Regions from separate parts of the Homo sapiens genome. Here all the other regions are linked to region 2. The links come from fine-mapping of genetic effects on gene expression. A gene starts in region 2. Each other region holds a variant in brackets. All regions are shown on one strand. Distances are between the middles of the regions.

Region 1 (2,770 bases), 20 kb after region 2:
TCCTACCTATGAGTGAGAATATGCAGTGTTTGGTTTTTTGTTCTTGCAATAGTTTACTGAGAATGATGATTTGCAATTTCATCCATGTCCCTACAAAGGACATGAACTCATCATTTTTTATGGCTGCATAGTATTCCATGGTGTATATGTGCCACATTTTCTTAATCCAGTCTATCATTGTTGGACATTTGGGTTGGTTCCAAGTCTTTGCTATTGTGAATAGTGCCGCAATAAACATACGTGTGCATGTGTCTTTATAGCAGCATAACACTAAGACTTTATTTGCCTTTTTCACTCTTAGTCTCCTATGAATATAAAATGGTGTTCTCCAGGGGTTTTGTGATGTGTGATATCACAATAAATTGAAACAGTATGAAAATTCAGCTTTTTGCTAATAAGCCAGAGATTAAAGAGTTGTGCAAAAAAAAAATTAGGCTGGGTACAGTGGCTTATACCTGTAATCCCAGCACTTTGGGAGGCCAGGGCGGGTGGATCACTTGAGGTCAGGAGTTTGAGATCAGCTTGGCCAACATGGTAAAATCCCATCTCTACTAAAAAATACAAAAATTAGCTGGGTGTAGTCGTGCACACCTGTAATCCCAGCTACTCTGGAGGCTGAGGCATGTGAATCACTTGAACCTGGGAGCTGGAGGTTGCAGTAAGCCAGGGCCAGGCCATTGCACTCTAGCCTGGGTGACGGCAAGACACTGTCTCAAAAAAAAAGTTAAATTATACCATTCTTCTCATGAAATATTTCATTGTTTGGGAAAATGTTTTTCATAAGAGATTTTTAATATTTTAAAAATGTCTCCCTTTTAGTTTATATAACTGTTAATGTCAATGCCTATAACTCATATAAACAAAAGCTCTTTGGCTTCCTCGATAATTTTGAGACTGTAAAGAGCTCCCGAGACCAAAAAGCTTGAGGTGACTGTCATAGAGTATTGCTCAGATAAAATCAAGATTAAAGCTAAATCTATCCTGTGAGTATAAGGATTTTTCATCTCTGGCTAAAGGTCAGCAGCTGGATTAATATAAAGAAATACTTTCTCTACAGAGTTTGGAACTCTGACCCTTATCTCCTCATTTTTAAGCACAATGCATGTATATTTTCCTGAAAAAGGTGATCTCAGGTTCCTAAAGTTGCCGTTAGAAGTTAGACTAGTGGCCTCACCCTAGCCCACAGCAGGGAAGTACATAGGAAGCCTCCCTGCTCTGAAAATGTGTTTTGTTTGATAACAGCTAATGCAATCCAAAAGCTCATCCGTATCAGCCTGTCTCAGGCTGGTGGCTCATCTCAACAATTGCTCATTCATCTGCGTTTAAAGATGAAATTATTTTGTTTTTAGTGGCCAATCCATCTAAATTATAAATCCATATTATCTTTTGTAGCAAAGCCGTGGAGGAAATTGTGAATACTGGTGTCACAGTTATTAAGGATGAGAAGACCAGTGTGGCCCGACTGATGAGGGAAAAAGAACATGAAATGAGCATCCTCTATGGCA[T/C]AGCTCAGAGGCAGAGGCAAGAAGAGGTACAGGAAGTGCTTCAAGAAGCAGAGAAAACACATCAGGCCACTCTTGGCAATATGATGGATAAACTGGCTAACACCCAGGGGGAGCTGCTGTCTATAGCAAAACAACTGGGAATCATGACAAATTGGAAAGATTTCCTAGAGGAGGAATTACAGGAAACCAGGATGGCATTTCAAAAATACATCAATTATACCTTTCCTAAGCTTTCACCAGGACATGCAGATTTTATTCTGCCAGAAAGAAAGAAAACACCTTCTAATCTTGTTATTAAGGAGAACAAAACAACTCTTGATTAGAAGTCTTCAGTTGAAATTCCACTACAAAAGACATCATTCCAGACTAAATAAATTTACTCAAAAACCATGTATTGATTCCCCAGCCTTGTGCAGGGTACTATTGGGCTATAAGAATTTTCATGGAAAACCAAAATATTAAAAAGCACATTCCAGATTATATTGAGCCAAGTCTGAGAAGAAAAAATAGTGAGAGGTAGCAAACTGATTAAGAGGGGAAAGGTTTCTTGGATGAAGCCTAAACACACTTCTGTATCTGTCTTTATTCATTTCTACATCAGACATATAATTAATTATTTCAGCATTTATTGCCATAGAAAACAAGTAAAGGAAAGTGTTCTTAGGTTGTTCCTGTTTTGGGCAGGTGTGCTAAGTTCCAGTAGACAGTTTATCATTTGGTGAATGCAGTAGCATTGTGAATTTAAAAAAGCAATTTCTCTCAAATTCAGTAGGATAAAATTTAAATTCTGGGACTCCCATATAAAGTAATTCAGGAAGGACTTGCTACCCACACAACAAGCAGGTTCAGTCACTTGGTGGGTGTCAACTCAATGACCACAACCAAAGAAGATTTAGCAAGGGGATTTTATTACTTATAAGGAGTAAGGAGAACACCAGGGATAGTCCCCAAAGCAGTGTCTGCCTGAGCTGGGGGCTGGGTCAGGTTTTATAAACATAGGGTAATGAGGCATGATCTGACTGGGTCTTGCAATGAGGGGATGTCAGGAGGCATGATCTAACTGGATCCTGCCATGGGGTGATGCCAAAGCTCAATCCAGTTGGATTCTGGATCCTGCCATGCAGTGTCCACTTCTTAATTCAGTTCCCACTCCTGAGTCAGAGCAATCAGGTTCCCTCTGTGGTTGAACACTTGGTCCATCTGGGCATGCTCAGATTACATGACCTGAGGGTCCATGGCAACTGAAAAACACTGTACTACTTTGT
Region 2 (2,770 bases):
AATCTGGCACAATTTGATAGTTACTTAAGGTCTTCAGCCAGTTATCAGGCCGTATGTGTTAATATAAATTATAGAGTAACTTGTGGTACACTTAGCTCAGGGCCCTATGGGAGTCCTGTTGTTGAAATTAATTTCACTGATGGCACTCACTTATTATAAAATAGTCCTGCCAAGTAGATGCAGCATATGACATTGTCAGGCAATTTTATAAATTCAGTTACTTGGTACAATCAGTTGCACAGATTTTTGCGATAGGTGGAATTTCTATGGCTGTTTATCTAAAATTATAGGAACAAATTAGTTAACCATGTGATTTTTAAAACCAGGCTTAGTAATTTTGAATGCTGCCTTAATGAAAGTAATTTCTTCTTCAAGATACCATGATATTTCCCAGTTTTATTACCATGGCACCAACACATCATGTTTATTAAAAACCTAAAAGAAATTAAGCTACCTCCATTGCTGGCCTTAAAAGAAATTAATTCTTTAAAAACTAATTTAAAACAAAGTGTGGTAGGCTGACTAATGCTCTCCTTCCCTGCAAAAATGTCCAGATCCTAATCTCTGGAACCTGTAAATATGGGACTTTACGGATATGGGTAAGTTTAGGATTTTGAGATGGGGAGATTATCCTGGATTATCTAGATGGGGCTGGTATAATCACCAAGGTCTTTAAAGCACGGCAGAAGATCAGAGGAAGAGACAATGTCACTATGGAAGCACTGGGGGAAAAGGCTATATGATGCAAGGCCATGACCCCAAGGAATATGGATGGCCTTTAGAAGCTGGAAAAGGCAAGCAAACACATTCTCCTCTGAAGCCTGCAGAAGGAACCAGCCCTTCTAACAACTTGATTTTAGCCCCTAAGACTCATTTTAGACTTCTGATCTCCAGAAATGCAAGAGGATAAATTTGTGTTACATTTAAACTATGAAGTTTGTGTAGTTTGTCACAGTGGTGCTATGGTTTGAATATTTGTCCCCTGCAAAACTCATGTTGAACTTTAATCCCCAACGTGGTAGTATTGAGAAGTGGGGCCTTTAAGGGGTGAGTGAATTCATTCATGGGTTAAGGGATTGATGGATTATCATGGGAGGAGAACTGGTGGTTTTATAAGAAGAGGAAGAGAGGCCTGAGCTAGCATGTGAGCTCAGCCCCTGGCCATGTCATACCCTATACCACCTCAGGAATCTTCAGTGAGTTCCCACCACCAAGAAGATTCTTACCTGATGCAACTCCTCCACCTTGGACTTCTCAGCCTCCATAAACTGTAAGAAATAATTTCATTTTCTTTATAAGCTATCCAGTTTCAGGTATTCTATTATAAGCAACAGAAAACAGAGTAAGACAGCAGCAATAGGAAACTAATATAGAAAGTATCAGGAAAATGAATGGCTGTATCATGCTCCCTTTTGTCATTATTTGAAGTTGCTTTTATGAGCAAAGCTTGTCTTACCTAGCAACAGTTGCCAAGTAAGTTAACAACTTAATGCTAGAGTCTGGGAAGGAGCAACTACTTAAATCTTCCCAAATCTGGTGCCCATACCTTCTATGGCAGGGGCTTTTAGCACCATTCTTTAACGTTAGACACATAACCACAGCCTAATCACTTGAACCATTTAATCCTTACCAGCCTCTAGCATTATCCTAAAACCCTGAACCTCTTCCAGCTTTCTTAAACTTTCAGCTTTTCTTGAAACGACTTTTTCTGATTCTAAGATTATTTTAACTGTAAGTAGGAGAAGACATCTGAAATTTAACTATGATCAGAAATTCAGATTACAAAAACTTTGTTTGCTGTGCTGTTTGTAATAAAATAATTCCACCAGCCCCTTTTGGAAAAACCTTCAAACGGATCCATGAATACAAGCCACTTAAGACACGCTTTTACACTCACAAAGACATACTAGGTAAGTGACTTTATCGTTTTCCTTTGTTCTAATGCTTCATAGCCTTATGTGTCATTCTTTCTGTTACATAGACTTTTATCAGCTTTTTTCTCTTCAGAGTTGCTTGTCCCTACAGGGATATTTGAGGAGAATATGGGTTGGAATACAGCTTCTCCACTTACAGTTGTATGTATTGGGCAGGGTATTTAGCCTCTCAATCTGTTTCCTTATGTGGAAATAAATATACTAATACCTATCTTACAGGTTGTTATGAGACTTTAATGAAGTATTTGTATCTATTATAAATCCTGGCACATAATAGTAAATGTGAGTTCATTTTGCCCTTGGCCATACTTGAGCACCTTTCAGTATGTGTAGGAGAGGAAATATTATCTCTAAATAACACCCTAATTGGATGGGCACAGTGGCTCACACCTGTAATCCCAGCACTTTGGGTGGTCGAGGTGGGCAGATCACTTGAGGCCAAGAGTTCAAGACCAGCCTGGCCAACATGGCGAAACCCCGTCTCTACTAAAAAAATTTAAGCAGGCATGGTGGCATGCGCCTGTAATCCCAGCTACTCGGGAGGCTGAGGTAAGAAAATTGCTTGAACCCAGGAGGTGGAGGTTGCAGTGAGCTGAGATCGTGCTACTGCACTCTAGCCTGGGTGACAGAGCGAGACTCTGCCTCAAAAAAAAAAAAAAAAAAAAAAAATTTTAAAGTACCCTAATAAATGGGTAAAAGAAACTATATAACCTTTAAATAGTAGCTGGTAGCATAAAAGTAGATACATATAGATAACATGAGGACGTTTACTGTACATACGTATGTATATATAATAAGCAAATCAAATTGTACTATAGGTTTCCATCTCTCTTTTA
Region 3 (2,770 bases), 140 kb after region 2:
CATCAGGGTATCACAGTAGTAGTATGGACCTGTTAAGGATTTTAGATTTAATCTGAAGTGCATTAGAAAAATCATTGAGTGGAGCCAGGTGCGGTGGCTCACACCTATAATCTCAGCACTTTGGGAGGCTGAGGCAGGTGGATCACTTGAGGTCAGGAGTTCAAGACCAGCCTGGCCAACATGGTAAAACCCCATCTCTACTAAAAATACAAAAATTAGCTGGGCGTGGTGGCACATGCCTGTATTCTAGCTACTTGGGAGGCTGAGGCAGGAGAATTGCTTGAACTTGGGAGGCAGAGGTTGTAGTGAGCTGAGATCACACCACTGCACTCCAGCCTGGGTGACAGAGCAAGACTCCGTCTCAAAAGAAAAAAAAGAAAAAGAAAGTCATTAAATGGTTTAAGTGAGGGACTAACATAGAACCCATGTTGAGAGTCACTTTGACCTCTTTGAGAATGAATTAGAAGTAGGGAAACAATAGAGGCAAGAGATAATCAGCTAGGATGACAGCACAGGTCACGAAGAGAAGTTAATGGATTTGAGTTATGCTCTGGCAGTAGAATCTGTAGGACTTCGTGATGGGTTTGGATAACCTGCTCCTAGGGGATATACAGGGTAGTTTCCTGTGAGCAACTGATCACATTTTTGTCAATTAATCAATACAATAACCTTGTTTTGTGTGTGCTTCAATCTAAAGACACTTTATTTAATGTACATTATTGATTAATTAGCATTGAACTCATGGCCAACAGCACTATAACATGCCTGAACAAAGCTTATCTATCACATGTATTTTCTCCATAATATATAGCATATCCTTCTTATACTTAGGAACATCAGACAGTGCGTCAGCCCTACAATGCTTGGGAGCCATTTAAACAAAATCACCAACACAAAGCACAAAAATGCAAAAAATGTGGTACTGAATAGATTGCACTTGTTTATGATCTGAAAGCGGAAACAAGGCAGAATGTTAACTTGTTCAGCGTCAGCCAGGAATGTGCACACTTGGTGAATCAAATTTTTTGCCACTCTGCACATGTCTGCCAATGACTGCAAGTGTTACCAGCATTGATTTGGGGGTTACAGATACATTTTAATGAGTGGAGAATTCACACGTACAGTCCATGAATAATAATAATCAACTATAGTAGGGGAAGGAAAGGGAGGTATCAGGAAGCATATCTGTGTTTCCTAGTATAAACAATTGGGTAGAGTTATTATTATTTTTGTTTTTTGAAACAGGAAAAACAGATTTGGGGGAAAAAGATATCAACAGTTTGATTTTGGGTAGGTATAATTTAAAGTTTTTAATGTCTTGAGACATCCAAATGGGCAGTTGGATTAAATGGGTCTGGAACTCAGAAGAGAGGTCTGGGCTAGAGATATAAATTTGGGAGTTCTTATCACATAAAAGTATTTAATCTCATGGAATTGGAAGACATTGTTAAAAAA[C/T]AATGATCGTGTAAAAACAATCTTATTTGTAATGTCATTTGACTCCATGTACCTTAAAGATTGCTGTTTTCTGGACAGGATAACCAGAAACCCCAGGACTAATATAAAGAGGAACACATGATAGGTGTGCTCTGTTTAGAGAAATGGAAGGCAGCTTGTTTAAGAAACAACAAAGGAGTGCTTGCTTTGGCAGCACATAATACTAAAAATTTGGACAGTACAGAGAAGATAGCATGGCCCCTGTGCAAGGATGACATGCAGATTTGTAAAGCATTCCACATTCAAAAAACAAAGGAGTCAGTCTGGTACTGAGGCAGTGCCCTAGAACTTTGTAAGAGTTAAATTAAGCAGGCCAGGGTAGGTATAACTCAATCAAGTGTGCAAATTAGAATCTTCAGGTCCCAAGAATTTAAGCAGAGGCAATTGTAGCTCCATGGATTGTTCTTGGTGAGGTTTTGGAGATCTGAAGTCTAGTCACACTCACTTCATGTGTAAGAACTTTGAGCCTGGAAAGGGACTAATTCATACAATCTCTGACTAAAAATTTTGTGTGACCAAATGGATCAGCAAGGTTCCAGATCCATGTTTTAAATGAAATGCCAGTCTCTTTTTCAGAATTTGAGGTGGTAGAGAGGTTCTATAACCAGGTAGTCCTTTTTGGACAGAACCCATGATGGCAATCTAGGTCAAAGGGCTGAGACCCCATTGTCTTTTGTTCTTTCTCTTGCCTTTAATGCCTTCCTTAGGGTAGCTGTAGATGGGTTGCATGCCATGAGGCATGGATATCCTAACATTCACATTAGTATGGTAAAAGTTTTGTAGGCTGAAGGGTATAACTGGTTTGCTAAAACATTGGAAGACAATAGCTTAATTCTAATTCCAAATATTTTCTTTGTCCTGGTTATATGCTGTGGCTTGGATGTGATTTGTCTCCACCAAAACTTATATTGAAATTCTATCCCCAGTGTGGTGATGTTGGGAGGCGGGGTCTAGTGGGAGGTGTTTAGGTTGTGGGGGCAAATTCCTCATGAATGGTTTGGTACTGTTTTCCTGGTAGTGAGCTGTGGCTCTCAAGAGACAGGATTAGTTCTTGCAGGAATTGATTATTTCTCGGGAGTGGGTTATAAAGCCAGGATGCTCCTCATGTTTTGCTCTCTTCACACGTGTCCACCTCCCCTTAGACCTTCTCTGCCATGTGATGCAGCAGGAAAGCCCTCGAAGAAGCCAGGGCCATGCCCTTGAACTTCTCAGCCTGCTCAACTGTGAGCTTTTTTTTTTTTTTTTTTTTTTTGTAGATGGAGTCTTGCTCTGTCAT

Evidence for each region.
Region 1: its variant is fine-mapped to the expression of C6orf163 in whole blood (TOPMed, PIP above 0.99).
Region 3: its variant is fine-mapped to the expression of C6orf163 in whole blood (TOPMed, PIP 0.93).

Annotation. Positions count from the first base shown.
Region 1 is chr6:87,363,569-87,366,338 of GRCh38, forward strand. C6orf163 (chromosome 6 open reading frame 163) reads left to right here. Exons shown (of 5, transcript NM_001010868.3): 5 at 1,393-1,895. The coding sequence ends at 1,828. Among named protein-coding and RNA genes, the nearest start is that of C6orf163, 20 kb to the left of the region's middle. The variant T/C (reference allele first, on the strand shown) is at 1,506.
Region 2 is chr6:87,343,338-87,346,107 of GRCh38, forward strand. It overlaps C6orf163 (chromosome 6 open reading frame 163), which reads left to right and starts at 1,476. Exons shown (of 5, transcript NM_001010868.3): 1 at 1,476-1,910. The coding sequence starts at 1,763.
Region 3 is chr6:87,486,813-87,489,582 of GRCh38, forward strand. All of the region lies in intron 2 of SLC35A1 (solute carrier family 35 member A1), which reads left to right. It also overlaps the pseudogene RNU6-444P. Among named protein-coding and RNA genes, the nearest start is that of SLC35A1, 15 kb to the left of the region's middle. The variant C/T (reference allele first, on the strand shown) is at 1,456.